2 separate regions of the Homo sapiens genome follow, and region 1 is linked to region 2. The links come from fine-mapping of genetic effects on gene expression. Tissue or cell type: skeletal muscle. Region 2 holds a variant in brackets; the other region holds the start of a gene. All regions are shown on one strand. Distances are between the middles of the regions.

Region 1 (8,000 bases), 110 kb after region 2:
AAGGCGGAGCCTACAGTGAGCAGAGATCGCACCACTGCACTCTCGCCTGGGTGACAGAGCCAGACTCCGTCTCAAAAAGAAAAAAAAGTATGAATATAAACACGTTTATATGAATATAAAACATGCAGGTTTTATATGATAGATCAGAACTCAAGGGAAATCTGGAATTAGTTACACTGGAAGCAGGACCTCCAGGGCTATCTGCCACTAGTGCTCGGCCTCTGTAGGAACATCAGAAGGCAATCAGAGCAGTATTGATCTCAGTGGAACACTGCACATTCATGCTTGTCGACCTCACTGAATCTCTAATTCCAGTTTGTGGATATCTTTAAGAATACATGTTCTGTAATGTAGAATATTAATTAACTTCATATCACCAGGCGTGTTTGATAACACTGCTAAACAGCATAGAGCTCTGTGGCAAATTATTAAATTTTACTCCCCATGGGCAATGATACATTTATTACAAAAATCAATCTTTGGATAATATTTCCTCAGTAACTCTCTTAGCCATTATAAATATACTGTTATCAATCACATTTATTCCTGTCATTTCTAACAGAATAGGATGATTCTGCCCAATGTATTACTAATCCAAGCTGCAGTCTTCCTTCTGACTTACACTGCTTGGCCAGTCCGATAGTCTCATCCATTAATAAGGGGGAAGTGGGTTAAACATGACATGACTTGTCCTTGATACACACATGCTAGGTCTCAGAGATCACTGTGTCCTCATCTCACACCTTCTGAATGCAATCTCTTTCAAATAATCCAGTCTTTAATTTCATTTTTATTTTTCTTTTCTTTTTTTTATTTTTTGAGATGGAGTCTCGCTCTGTTGCCTAGGCTGGAGTGCAGTGGCACTATCTTGGCTCACTGCAACTTCCGCCTCCCAGGTTCAAGCAATTCTCCTACCTCAGCCTCCCGAGTAGCTGGGACTACAGGCATGCACCACTATGCCTGGCTAATTTTTGTATTTTTAGTAGAGACAGGGTTTCACTATGTTAGCCAGGCTGCTCTCGAACTTCTCACCTCAGGTGATCCACCCACCTCAGCCTTCCCAAAGTGCTGGGAGTACAGGTGTGAGCCACTGCACCCAGCCCAGTCTTTTAATTTTAATACTACTTCTGCCATTAACATCTAACTCACAATTTAGAATTCCAAACACTATTGTTCCTTTCCTGGAAACTTAGAACGTTTACACATGTTCATCTCCCTGGAAATTGCCATACTCTCCATAATTGTCAGAAATTACCTACCATGATTGAATCATTATGTATGCTGTGAGCCAATACATGTGAAGGTGATAAGGCAGCCGTTACCCAGATCATTCTTTTCTCAAAATACAGCCCTTGATGAATCACTCTCATAATTTGTTTTTCATTTTTGAGCTACAACATACTACTTTGGTGATCTTTGGCCTACTTGTGCACCATCTATTTATTCTTTACTTAATATTTATTTTTCCCAAAATATTTTAATTAAATAAATGTATTATGAAAAGAAACTTTCCATCTACTATAAATGGAAACCCAGTACCACAAATAGAGAATAACTTTAAAGATAAATAAAATGAATACAAAATGACTCATTAAATGCTGATCGAAGTGCCTGCTGAAAACACTAAGTCTTTAACCTGCTCTTTGTTATTAAAAATGGAGATCAGTAAATTTATGAGAAAATGTATATCCTTTAATGATTTCATCCAGAAGGAAGGAAAGCTAAAAATTAATGAGTTAAGTATCCATTTTAAGAATTTAGGAAAAAGGCCGGGCGTGGTGGCTCACGTCTGTAATCCTAGCACTCTGGGGGGCTGAGGCTGTTAGGTCACCTGAGGTCAGGAGTTCGTGACCAGCCTGGCAAACATGGTGAAACCCTGTCTCTACTAAAAAATACAAAAAATTAGCCGGGCATGGTGGTGTGTGCCTGTAATCCCAGCTACTTGGGAGGCTGAGGCAGGAGAATCACTTGAACCCACTAGGCGGAGGTTGCAGTGAGCCAAGATCACGCCACTGCACTCCAGCCTGGGGGACAGAGCCGACTCCATCTCAAAAAAGGAATTCATGAAAAAATGTCTTGGGGATAAACCCAAAGAAAATAGGAAATAAAGATGAGAGCAGAATTAATGAAAGAGAAAACAAAGATACAATGGGGACTATCAGCAAAAATAAAAGTTAATTCCTTAAAAACACTACTAAAATTGGCAAACTTGTGGAAGATTGATTAAGGTAAAAGAAAAAAAGTCAACCGGGCACCGTGGTTCACGCCTGTAATCCTAGCACTTTGGGAGGCCACAGAGGCCAGATCACTTAGGCCCAGGAGTTCGAGGCCAGCCTGACCAACTTGGTGAAACCCCGTCTCTACTAAAAATACAAAATTAGCTGGGCGTGGTGGCGCATGTCTGTAGTCCCAGCTACTCGGGAGGCTGAGGCAAGGGAATTGCTTGAGCCCGGGAGGCAGAGGTTGCAGTGAGCCAAGATCGCGCCATTGCACTCCAGCCTGGGCAACAAGAAACTCCATCTTAAAAAAAAAAAAAAAGTAGAAGGGAACTTTTTTAAAGGGCAAATTAAATGGCAAATCTCATGCTTAGCAGTGATAAGGATATTTCTTGATCTCTATTTTTACTCAGCATGTTTTGGAGGGGGCAGCCAGAACAAGACAGAAAAAACAAAGAGGAACAGGGAGGAGGGGAAGGAAGAGGGGAACAAAACCATCACTATTCATGGATAGAGTATTCAAAAAAATTCATACAAACTGACAATGTTAATAATAGATTTTTTCAAGATTACTGATATAAGTTAAATTGCATTTCTACATACCAGCAAGAGTTTAAGAGAAAAGTATGTGTTAATGATAGACATTTATCAAGCAAGAAAAAAATGTTACCTTGGAATAATTATAATGAAAGAACTTACATAGGAATTTTAAGAAGAAAATCTATGAACTTTAATGAAAGACATTAAAAAGACCCTTTAAAAATGGAGTTATGTACATGATGAACCAGAAAATTAAATATCATTGAAATGTCAACTCTCCTCAAATTGATCTTGTAATTCAAAGCAATTTGAATCAAAACCCCAGCAACCTTGCAGAATAAAAACACAATAACCAAAGACACTACTTAAGAAGAAGAGGGAAGACTTGCTCTAGAAGATATTAAGCTTTAACATGAAACCATAATAATTATGTGGCATTCGCATGGGAACAATCAAAGAGAGTAAAAGGCTCAGAGACAGACCCTTGCATTAATGAGAACCTGATACATGAGAGAGGTATCAGCAGGGTTTAGTGGGGGAAAGCTGGGCCATTCCAAAAATGTTACTGGGGCAAGTGGTTAACTATATGGAAACAAGCACGAAAATTTATCTGAACCCCATACTGTGCACAAGTATCAATTCTAGATGATTAAGCACATAAGTGAGAAAATCAAACCTTAAAAATTTTAGAAGGAAGTGGAACACAATATCTTTATGGCTTCAGGGTAAATAAGAATTCCTTTAAAAACAAATAGAAAGCAGTAACCCTCAAGGAAAGGATTGTTAAAATCAAACTACAAGGCCGGGTGCGGTGGCTCACACCTGTAATCCCAGCACTTTGGAACACTGAGGCAGGCGGAACCCCTGAGCTCAGGAGTTTGAGACCAACCTGGGCAACACAGCAAAACCCCATCTCTACAAAAAATACAAAAATTAGCCAGGCATGGTGGCACGCACTTGTAGTCACAGTTACTAGGGAGGCTGAGGTGGGAGGATCACTTGAGCCCAGGAGGCAGTCTGCAATGAGCTTAGACTGCATCATTGCACTCCAGCCTGGGAGTAAGATTCTGTCTCAAAAAAAAAAAAAAAAAAATTCAAGTTACATTAAAATTAAGAATTTCTGCTCACCTAAGGCAAGCTATATAAAATAGAAGATATTTGCCACACAGCAATCAGCAAAAGTTTTGTGTTCAGAATATAGAAAGAACTCTTGAAAATAAAAAAAGAAACAACCTAAGAGAAAAGCAGAAATTGGGGAACAGGCTCTAATTTATATTTATCTTTCATATGGATAATACCTTCATTTAAATATAATACAAAGACTATCTCTGCTTGTAATGAAATAGTAATATACATTTAGTTCAACTTAATTTTTACTGTTTTCAACTACAGAAGTGCTTTTTGTTCCTTAATAATTATATGCTTAACATTATACAAGATTTTTAGACATATATGTTTGTTTCCCTTGTATATAAATTCTCATCTGATGTTTCCACATTTGAGTGCTTCAGTATAGCACCCATTTCTTTTTTTTACCTTACATGGAGTCTTGCTCTGTCTCTCCAGCTGGAGGGCAGTGGCTGATCTCTGCTCACTGCAACTTCCGCCTCCTGGGTTCTAGTGATTTGCCTGCCTCAGCTGTCTGAGTAGTTGGGCTTACAGGCACCTGCCACCAAGCCCAGCTAATTTTTGTATTTTTAGTAGAGAGGGGATTCACCATGTTGGCCAGGGTGGTCTCAAACTCCTGACCTCAAGTGATCCCCCTGCCTCAGCCTCCCAAAGTGCTGAGGTTAGAGACCTGAGCCAGGGTGCCTGACCAGAATATCATTTTTTGATCTAGCATTGCATTTGTGACTATCAAGGTGCCCATGGGTTTGTCTCCATGGGCGCCGCCCTCTTCCTAGGAGAGTAGGTGGGGAGTTTCTGTGCCCCCTCCCCCACCACGGGAAACTTGCCCTCTTGCACACGTGGTGCGGAAGGCGCCATTTTGGCCCAGTTGGTGCTGAGTAAGATGTTCTCGCTTCTCTGCTCAGGGCATGAAGATCTGGGGCAGGTGCAGGACTTGGGGCCCCAGAGAGTGCCACAATCGACTGCCCGTGGGAGTGGGCTGGTGCCTGGGAGCAAGAGCGCGGCCGTCCGGCGCCTGTGTGAGCCGACAGGGCAGCTCCGCCAGGGAACCAGGGGCCCGTCCCTCTGGGGTCATGGGCGGACAGGCACGGGAGCTGAGAGAGGGGACCGGGCCTAGGCCACAGGCCCTCCAAGGAAGCCACAGAGCCAGCTAGTGGCACCCAGGGACTGCGGGAAGCTTCGGCAAGGTAAGCTCTGGCAGGGTAAGCTCGGGACCAACATGGGTTTTAGTGTCTTTTCCTAGTGGTGGGGAATTTCTACAAGGTGGGTAGGACGTGTTAAGGGTGGCCTTAGCAATTTGTAGGCCTAGAGGCCGTCTAGGAGAGGCCTGCAGTTCAGAGTCTCAACAGGGCTTGATGGGGCCTGCCATTTCATTTCGCAATGTGGTTCCTAATGTTTCTTGGGAAACCGGGCGTGTTATGTCTCCATGTCACCCTTTACTTCTTGGATTTCTTGGTGTGCGTGGTTGCCTTTTTCTCTTTTCTTATATTGCAATTTCGGGTCCCACATTTTCTTCCATTCGAATCTGTGCGTCTTCTATGCAAAGCCTGTGGTGGGTCTTGCTCTCGGACTAGTTGAGCAGCATTGCACTCGTGTTGGTTGTGGGAGTTTCATCGTTTCTGTGTGTGTTCAGCATTCTGTTGCGAGTTCCTTATCTTCAGAATGATTGAGAAATGTAGTTTTCAGTTTTAAAGAATATATATTCTTTGGGGAGGTGATTTTATTGCATTTGGCCAGAGAATATGTGACCATTCGGTCACTGAGGACTGGTGTGTACCCCTAGGGACGCAGTATCCACCTGGAGACTGGGTGTCCCCATGGAACCTGATGTCACTCTGGGCCTAGCTGCCCACATGGGTCCTTGGTGTCCACCTGGAGCCTGATGTTCCCCAGGGACCTAGGTATCCATTTGGGTCCTGATGTTCATCTGGGACCTGGTGTTCACCTAGGGCCCGATAGTCACCGGGGGACTGGGTATGTACCTGGGGCCTCATGTCCACCTGTGGTGTGGGTATCCACGTTGGGCCTGTGTGTCAATCTGGTGCCCCATGTCCACCTATGGATTAGATACCCAACTGGGGCCTGCTCTTCATCTTGGACTTGGTGTTTACCTGGAACCTGATGTCCAGATGGGGCATAGATTATCTATGTGGGGACTGGTGTCTAGATGGGGTCTGACAGTCAACTGGGGCCTGGCCTGGTATTTTCCTGAGGTGTGACTGTGAACCTGGGGACTAAAGTCTACCTAGAATCCAGTGTCTACCTTGGGCCTAATGTCCACCGGTGGCCCAATGTAAATCTGGGCACTAAAGTCTACCTAGAATCCAGTGTCTACCTTGGGCCTAATGTCCACCTGTGGCCCAATGTAAATCTGGGGACTAAAGTCTACCTAGAATCCAGTGTGTACCTTGGGCCTAATGTCCACCTGTGGCCCAATGTAAATCTGGGGCCTGGTATTTAGCTAGGGCCTGGGTATTCACCCAGGGCTTGATTTCAGCTGGGCCCTGAAGTTCTCCTAGTGCCTAGTGTCCACCTGAGGCCTTGGTGTCAGTCGGGAACTGGATGTCCACCTGGGGCTTGAGTGTTTCCCGGTGCCTGAGGACTTCCTGGGCCTGGATGTTCACATGGGACCTAGATTGAACCTGAGGCCTGATGTTCATCAGGAGCCCAGGTATCCACCTGGGGAGTGGTGTCCACCCAAGACATTTGGAGTCAAGTGTCCACTTGAGGCCTCATGTCCACCTGGGGCCGGATTGTCCATCAGGGACCTGTTTTTGACCAGGGACCTGGGTATTTACCTGGGGCCTCAGTGCCCACTTGGGGCCTGACATCCACTTGGGTGTTGGTGTCCACCAGGAGCCTAATGTCCACCAGAGTCCTGGGTATCCTCCTGGCACCTGGTGTCTGCCTGGGGCCTGGTGTCCACCTAAAGTGTGGGTATCCACCTAGGACCTGGTGTGCACCTAGGGCCTTTGTCCACCTTGGGCCTGTTGTTCCTCTGGGGCCTTGTGTCCGCCTGGGCCCTGGGTGTGAGCGTGGTACCTGATATCCACCTGTGGCTTCCATAGCCACCTGAGGCCTGGTGGTCATTTGAAACCTGGTGTTCTCCAGGGGCCTGATGTCAACCTGAGGTGTAGATATCCACCTGGGTCCTGGATGTCCAGCTGGGGCCAGATGTCCAGCTCTGGTCTAGGTATACCCCTGGGGCTTGATATTCACCAGGGGTTTAGGCATTTACTTGGCACCTAGTTTCCCTGTGGAGTGTGCCGTCCCATGAGGATTGACATTCAGCTGGGGACTGGGTATCTACCAGGGACCTGGGTATCCACCTCAAGCCTATTGTACTCCTGGAACCTGAGTATTTACCTGGGGTCTGATATGCACCCAGGCCTGTTGCCTACATAGTGTCTTATGTTCCCCTTGAGCCTGAACGTCCGTCTGAGTCCTCGGTATCCTCTGTGGGATGGCTGTCCACCTGTGACATTGTGTCCTGCTGTGGCACGGATGTGAGCCTGGTGCCTGATATACATCTTAAGTCCAGTGTCCACCTGGGGCCTGATGTTGACCTGGGGACTGATGTCCACATGGGAACTGGGCATCCACCTGCGGCCTGATGTCCACTGGGAACTGGATGTTGCCCTGGGGTCAGGGTATCTACCTGGAGCGTGGTGTTCACCAGGGGCCTAGGCATCCACCTGGGGCCTGTAGTCTACCTGGGGCTTCCTGTCCACTGTGGCCCTGGTATTTACCTGGGGCCTGGACATCCACTTGAGGCCTGAAGTTTAAGTGGGGCCTGGTGTTCAACGGGGGCCCATGTGTCAACTTGGGAACAGACATGCACCGAGATGCCTGATATCCATCTGGGGCCTGGTTTCCACCTGGGGCCTAGTATTTACCTACGGCCTGGGCGTCCACCTATGGTGTATTATCTAAGTATCTAAGTAACAACGTTTGAGAGGTTATTAGGCCTATATATGAACATGCTACTAACTAGAAAAAAGTTATGTGCAAAGGAGCTTTGTGATGTACCTTATTATATTGTTGAATGGAACGTAACTTTTCATTAAACAAGTTCCTAACACATTTTATAGAATCTAACAAATGAGATTTCAGAGG
Region 2 (8,000 bases):
CAGGAGGCTGAGGCAGGAGAATGGCGTGAACCCAGGAGGCAGAGCTTGCAGTGAGCCGAGACCACGCCACTGCACTCCAGCCTGGGCGACAGAGCGAGACTCCATCTCAAAAAAAAGGAATTGAACTACCATGGAGAAGAATTAGAATTAGCAGCTGCTACAAATAATCTCCTGGAACTGTTATGTCATAGAGCAAAGCAAAGAGATTTTTAGAACAAGTATAAATAAAATGCTCAAATGAGGAAAAAAATGAATAGAAATGAGGGAAAAAATGAATAGAAATGTAAGACAAAGACAAGATATTTTGAAAAATGGCAGATTTGGGAAATAACAAAATAGAAATTATAGAAATGAGACATGAAGTAATTAAAATAAAATCACTGGCCCCCAGAACTTTGTTTCTCATACCATTCTCCAAGGAACCGGGACTTCTTAGAGAAGTGGCTGATCCCAGGGCTGGGCCAGGGAATGGTGAAGATGGGGCTTGGAGCAGCCTAAAGTTCAGGGAAATGCTAACCAAAAGAAAGTAGGCATCGCGATATTAATAGCAGACAGAATCAAAATTAGGAAAGAAATAGCATTAATAAGAATCAATGGGGTCCGGCGCGGTGGCTCACGCCTGTAATCCCAGCACTTTGGAAGGCCGAGGCGGGTGGATTACCTGAGGTCGGGAGTTTGAGACCAGCCTGGCCAACATGGAGAAACCCTGTCTCTACTAAAAATAGAAAAATTAGCCAGGCATACATAGTGGTGCACACTTGTAATCCCAGCTACTTGGGAGGCTGAGGTAGAAGAATTCGCTTGAACCCGGGAGGCAGAGGTTGCAGTGAGCTGAAATCACACCACTGCACTCCAGCCTGGGCAACAGAGCAAGACTCCATCTCAAAAAAAAAAAGAAAAGAAAAAAAATCAATGGGAACACTACTTGATGATAAAAGGAAATATTTACCAAGTCAGTTTAGCAATGATGACCTTTTATGGTTTAAATAACATAAATCATTTTGAAATAAAATTATTTTCATTACTTTTTAAAACGTACGGATGGAATCTAAGAAGCATGGATATTTGATGCCCACCATCAAAGAACTGAAAAACATACAAACAAGCTCTTCTTATGGAGTCAGAAAAGTTTTCTTTTTGTCCTTGACCTAATACTTACAGTTCACTTACCCAAAATTTTTTCCCAATATACACTACTTAGTGATTGACAGTATTTCATTGATCACTCTATCCTATTTCTCCACAAGAAATATATTTATATAATTATATATATAATTACTTCTAGTGACTATAGAATTTTTAAAATTTCTTTTGGATAGAGTCATAATTTAAGGAGAAAACAATTGATCAAAACAGTATAGCTGTAGTCACCCTACAGTGCTATAGCACACTAGAACTTATTCTTCCTATGTAAGTTGTAATTTTGTATCTATTAGCCAGCCCCTCCCTATCCTCTCCTCCTCCCATTATTGTATATTTTCAAATAACTAAAGGAGAGAATTTCAGATGTTCCCAACATAAAGAAATCATAAATGCTTGAAGTGATAAATATGCCAATTACTCTGATTTGATTATTACATATTGTGTATATGTATCAAAATATCACTCTGTACTCCATAAATATGTTCATTTATTACATATCAATTAAAAATAATTTTTAAAAGAAAAAATCAATATATTAAGATTTTTGATAGTAACAAAAAGTAAAATTGTATAAAACTACATCTTTTAGTGAATGGTTGGAACTTTTTAAAAACTATTTGATAGATCTGCTAATAAATATAGCTTATTAATAGAAGGAGTCAAGATCAGGCATCAATATCTTTCCTGTTTTTTAAGTAGATGTCCCAAGGAGCCTGTTCACATAAGTAAGTAGGTATGAATCAAAAAGTTTTATTTTTTAAAAAGTCACTCTACGTTCTGAACTCTTCCCTAAATATACACCATTAAAAGTTATTTGTAATGACTATCGGCGACAATTCATTAGGTCTTTCTTCAATTTTTGTTGAAAGTAAAGAATTAGAAACTGTGTAACTTGCCAAATGATTACCTCGTAATCACTGTAGTCATTCAATTTGTCAATTCTGTCACCAATTTTTTAATTTTCCCTTGCACATTACCCCTGGAAGTATTTCTACCCCAGTGTAATACATCATAATCGATTCAGAATCAATGAGCATGTCTTTCTTTATAAAGTGGGAGAAGGAGATTGTTAAAAAGGATCTGGGAAGGGGAACCCCTGCAAGCTCCCAGCCTGGCAGTTCAGGGCAACAGTCCTCTTCTGCCCCTGATGAAGTAACTGGGACTGGATGCACCATCTCTGGTAACCAGGAGAACACTTGACAAATATATGAAACAACCACTTTCAGACACTGGATAGCACGAAGTGCAAAACAAGACAGAAACTAATGAGGTGAGCCCTACACTTGCCCGAGCTCTCTGCCCACAGGCATGTTCAGAATCAGGGCACAGGGAAGGGGAATCCAGTCAGTGCACGGGAACCTCTGGGAGTGGAGGAGAAAGAGATCCGAGAGTGGGGAGTTGAGGCTAATGGAGTCTGTGGGGCACAGGATCAGAGAAGAGGGCATATGCCAGGAAAGAGCTCCGGAAATCACATACAAGTTCCCAGGTATGCACGTATCAGAGGTTTTTCAACTGCTCCCCTATATATGGGCACCTGATTTATTTACAATGTGCTTGTGCAGGTAAATTTTCATATTGTTGGAGATATAGCTCCATGATAAATTCCTGGAAGAGGAATCCATGGGTGAAAAAGATAAATGCACATATTGTTTACTCAGATAATGCCAAATTCCCCTTTCGGTGACTTTCCCCTCCATTGAGGTATACCAATTTGCACACTAGCATTGTTACAATAAATTCTATTTTCCTTTCCCCATGGCTCCCAACACAATGTGTTTTAAATATTTTAAATTTTGCCAATCTGATAGATTAGAAATTACATCTCATTATAGTTTACATTTCTCTTAATATGAGTGAGGTGGAGCAACTTTTCATATGTTTAAAGGCCATTTTTGTATTCCTTTCTGTGAATTGTTTGTCTTTTTCTACTTTTTAAAAATACTTTTCCTCTCAATTTTTAAGACTTCTTTAAATATTGGGAATATTAGCCCTTCATCCCTGATATATGTTTTAAATAATTTTTCCCAGCTTCAGTTGGTTTTTGACTTATTGTACTTTATGCTGTGCAAACTTTTTAATGCTTACATACTCATGTTTATTAATCTTTTTTATTGTATCTGGATTTTAAGTTTGAATTTAACATGTTTCTTGCATGGCTTTATCTTTTACAATTAGACCTCTGATCCACTTAGAGTTGATTATTGTGTGAGGTATGAGGTATAAGGTGTGAGGTCTAATTCTAATTTTATCTTTTCCAGTTGGCCAACCAGATGTGCCAGCAACTAGATTATTTATTACAAACTCTACTTTTTCCCGTGTGATTTGAAATACAACCTTTACCACCAAATGTCTCTATACACTTGGGGCTGTTCCTGCAATTGTAATTCTATTGCACCGGTCTCTCCATTCATGAGCCAGTAAGGAGTCTGTTAACTAAATAGGCTTTTTTTTTTTGGCGG[C/T]GGGGAGGGGAGCGGATGGAGTCTTGCTCTGTTGCCCAGGCTGGAGTGCAGTGGCAGGATCCCAGCTCACTGCAGCCTCTGCCTCCTGGGTTCAAGCGATTCTCCTGCCTCAGCCTCCTGAGTAGCTGGTATTACAGGAGCCTGCCATCATGCATGGCTAATTTTTGTATTTTGTTTGTTTGTTTGTTTGTTTGTTTTTGGTAGAGACCGGGTTTTGCCATGTTGGCCAGGCTGGTCTCGATCTCCTGGCCTCAGATGATCCACTCGCCTTGGCCTGCCAAAGTGCTGGGATTACAGAGAAGATATTTTAATGTCTGGTAGGACTAGTTGTGCACACATGCGTGCACGTGCTCACAGGCTTGCACGTGCTCACAGGCGTGCACGTGCTCACACACACACACACACAAGACTTTGTACATCATTGAACATTAGTCTGCCTATTCTTGGTTATGTATTTTTGCACATGAACTTGAGTATTAACTTGTCGACTTCCAGAAAACTTATTTTGTATTAGGATTATATTAAGTTTTTAAATTACCTTAGGGAAAACTGACAACTTACTGTGTTGAGTCATCTACCCAAGAACAGGGGGTGTCTTTCCATTTGTTCAAAGCTACTTCTATACCTCTCAGGAGCATTGAAAAGTTTTCTTCATATGTGTTTTCCACATTTATTTGTTGCTATTAAAAGGAGGTTTATTACATCATCATTATTCCCTGTTACTGTTTTAGATATGAAGGCTATTGATTCCTGTGTGTTAATTTTATATCTCACTACCTTACTAAACCTTTTATGGTTTGGATCCATTTGATGATTGATTCACTGGGATTTTCCAAGTATACTATCAGATCATTTGCAAATAGGTATAGTTTTACACCTTATTTTCCAAGTATAATATCTCTAATCAATTTCTCTTGGCTAATTGGATTTCCCAATGTCCTCAATGCAATGTGAGAAAGAAATGGAGATAGTAAGCATCACTGCCTTTTTCCAGTCAAAGTGGAAATGCCTCTGGTATTTCTCCATTAACCAAAATGATGTGAATGTGTGTTTTATAAAGAAAGCACATATCAATTTCTATTTTGTGTTGAATGGGTATTGAATTTAGTAAGACAGTCTTTAGTAATTACAGAGATAGTCATGTATGTCTCTTAGATATATTAATATGGGGTATTACATTAATGGATTTTCTAATACTGAACCAATCTTGCATTCTGAGAATAAATCCTACTTTGGCCATGAAATATCATACACATAACTCATATTAGTCTGCATTTCTTTTTGTTCTTGCTCTGCTGCCTGCCCAGGCTAAAGTGCAAGAACACGATCTCAGCTTACTGCAGCCTCCAGCTGCAGGGTTCAAGCGATTCTCCCACCTCAGCCTCCAAGTAGCTAGGACTACAGGAATGCACTACAATTATTATTATTATTATTATTGTGAGACAGGGTCTTGCTGTGTTGCCCAGTCTGGTCTTGAACTCCCGGCCTCAAGTGATCCTCCCACCTCACCTCCCAAAGTGCTGGGATTACTGGTGTCAGCCACTGTGCCTGGCTATGCTATGATTATAAAGTTTAAGTAACCCTGTTACTCTTGGTTCAATAATTAGGAAGTTTTTCCTCATTTTCAATGTTCTGGAATAATTTGTGGAGTATTGGGATGTTCTGGTCTCTAAAGGTTTGATGGAATTTTCTCTGGAACCATATGGGCCTGATGAAATTTTTAAAGACAGTGTTTTAATATTAATAGTGTATTTCTTCTTTTATGGAAAATTGTGTTTAAGCTTTCTAACTTTAATGGGAGTTGATTTTGGCCAACTGTATTTCCCTAGGAAATTATTCACTTAATCTAAGTTTTTAACTGTATTTGTGTAGTGGTCTGAAAGTAGTCTCATAGGAATTTTTAAATTCCTGTTGTTTTCATGGTTTTATACAGCTCATTGATAAAAATCAATGTCTATAAATACAAGTGATCACTGAAGTGATCTAACACTGTTCGCATAATCACATCCTTAGTTCCAAGTATGTATATTTTATTTGTCACAAGTTAATATCTTAAGTCTTCTTAACTTGAACAATGAAAACAATTTATTCCTTCTGGTAACTGACAACTTATGGTGTGGCTTATTTTCCTTAATTCTAGCAATTCCAAGAAAAAGGAAAAAAATACAAAATGTCAGAAAAAAAAGTACATATCATCAATTCAACAACTGGAAACAGTTTCAGGATTGAAAGTTTCATCCAGTAACAGAAGAGCACAGTCAGTGCTCATACAAGAATTCACTGATGACATCTTGGGCTCCTGAGCTATAAAGTGCTGTTAAATCCAGAATGTGAAATACATTATGTGAAAAGTAATACTCCAAATGTAAATGTATAAGTTGCCCTTTTCAAGAAGGACTTACAAATATATTAGATTTAATTTTCTTTTAGCTAAACAGAACTTTTTAAGATTTAGTATTTTTTCTTAACAAACAGAAGCTTCTAATTCCTTTTAAGATTAACAAGTAAGATGCAAAATACTAAACAAAGTTACTGAAACAGAGGTATTAAGGACAAACTGAACTTTTATAGTTCACTGACTTCTGCAGTAATTAAAAGTCTGAGACTCCCCTGAAGACTGAATTGGGTATGTCATAGATGTTTAATCATAGCCATCTTATCTGAGTGACATTAGTTACTCTATAGTGCAACATAATCTTTCACAAATTTCTGTTCATTGCAGTGTCATTCCATTCCCTTGTAGACCTCAGATATTAGTAGTCTTTTTTTCTGTGAAGTACAGTCTTGATGAGCTTAGAAGTGTATTTTATATTTTTCGTGAGTTAAAAAAAGTTATCTTTTTTCAAGACAGAAGTACACTTTACAGAAATAATGAAATCCCAGGAGTGATTTGGATTACTGTGGGATGGTGCCAGCACTGGCTGTGGGCAGTACTTAGAACTATGCCCTGTTATGCATCTTTTAGGAGATAGGTTCTACAGAACTGTATGGGTTTTTTTCAAGGTTCTAATGAAAGGTGATTCAATTCAAAGAAAATATTAGAAGTCAGTACAGATGCATGGGAGAAGAAATATAGGGCAATAATATTAATATCAATGTATCAAATTATATCTGTATTTAAAAGCATGGATTCCATAAATTCAAGTGAAATACTTTAATTTCAAGGCTCATCATTGTCATAAATCATAAAGAATATCATAAATACATAACTATTAAAATGCAGGCATTTATTGTGTAAATACAACTACATATAGACAGTAGTATCTTTGCATAGTTCATTATTAAACCAAAACACAAGTTTTTATGTACAAAAACATTCCGTAGAGAAGTGAGAAAATAAAAATAAAAACCCACATATGGGTCTCTATAAATGTCAACATTACACCTATGTGTAATGTTACATTATGTTGTGGTCAAGTCTAACAAGAAGTGGATTGCTGAAGATCGTGAATGCTTCACTGGTTAATCATGAATTTATAGACACTGATCTTTCTCTGGAGAGTATTTGGCCAGTATGAAAGTTAATTTATCCTTGTAGTATTCTATGAAAATAAACTTTCAGGAACTTGGGTGTTTTAGAAACCACTGCTTGGGCACTAAGGAGGGAATGAGTTCTTTCAAAAACATTTTTGTTTTTGTATTCAGTTCTTTAATCAGACAAGAAGTTATTTTTCATGTGGATGTGAAGTAGGCAAATAATTTTCTTTTGCTTTCTGAGTGGGAATACCCAGTTGTCTCAAAAGTCAGTCCATTCCTTCTTTATCCGTAATGCTATTTTTGTCATATATAAAGCTATTTTTAATGGGTGCCCTATTCTCGTCTGTTGTTCTGGCTTTTTTCTTCTTAAACCAGTATCTCCCTAATAGCTGTACAATGCATCTGGTACCTGCTAGGGCAAGTGTCCCCACCATGTCTTCTTCAGAGTTGTATTGGCTGTTTTTAGACATTTATTTTTCATGTAATTTTTTTTTTTGAGACAGAGTCTCACTCTGTCATCCAGGCTGGAGTGCAATGGCATGATCTCAGCTCACTGCAGCCTCCACCTCCTGGGTTTAAGTGATTCTCCCACCTTAGCGCCCTGAGTAGCTGGAATTGCAGGTGCATGCCACCATGTCCAGCTAATTTTTGTATTTTTGTAGAGACGCGGTTTCATCATGTTGGCCAGGCTGGTTTCAAACTCCTGACCTCAAGTGATTCACTCACGTTGGCCTCCCAGAGTGCTGGGATTGCAGGTGTGAACTACCATGCCTGGACTGTTTTTCATGTAAATTTTAAAATCAATTTTTCAGGTTTTTTGAAAAACTCTCCTGGTTTTTTTTTATTGGAATTACACTGAATTCATGCCTTTATAATCGTGAAGTCTCTTGTCCATAAATATGGTATATCTCTCTATTCACA

Direction of the effects. Alleles are on the strand shown, and positions count from the first base shown. SD is a standard deviation of normalised expression in the study named.
For the expression in skeletal muscle of the gene that starts at base 4,741 in region 1, allele C in region 2 goes with a lower level than allele T (moderate effect, 0.60 SD a copy in GTEx).

Evidence for each region. PIP is the estimated chance that this variant, and not a neighbour inherited with it, causes the effect.
Region 1: it holds the start of SACS-AS1, and the variant in region 2 is fine-mapped to the expression of SACS-AS1 in skeletal muscle (GTEx, PIP 0.99).

What each region holds. Positions count from the first base shown.
Region 1 is chr13:23,414,231-23,422,230 of GRCh38, forward strand. It overlaps SACS-AS1 (SACS antisense RNA 1), which reads left to right and starts at 4,741. Exons shown (of 2, transcript NR_103450.1): 1 at 4,741-5,071. All of the region lies in intron 1 of SACS (sacsin molecular chaperone), which reads right to left.
Region 2 is chr13:23,301,008-23,309,007 of GRCh38, forward strand. All of the region lies in intron 6 of SGCG (sarcoglycan gamma), which reads left to right. Among named protein-coding and RNA genes, the nearest start is that of SACS-AS1, 110 kb to the right of the region's middle. The variant C/T (reference allele first, on the strand shown) is at 3,603.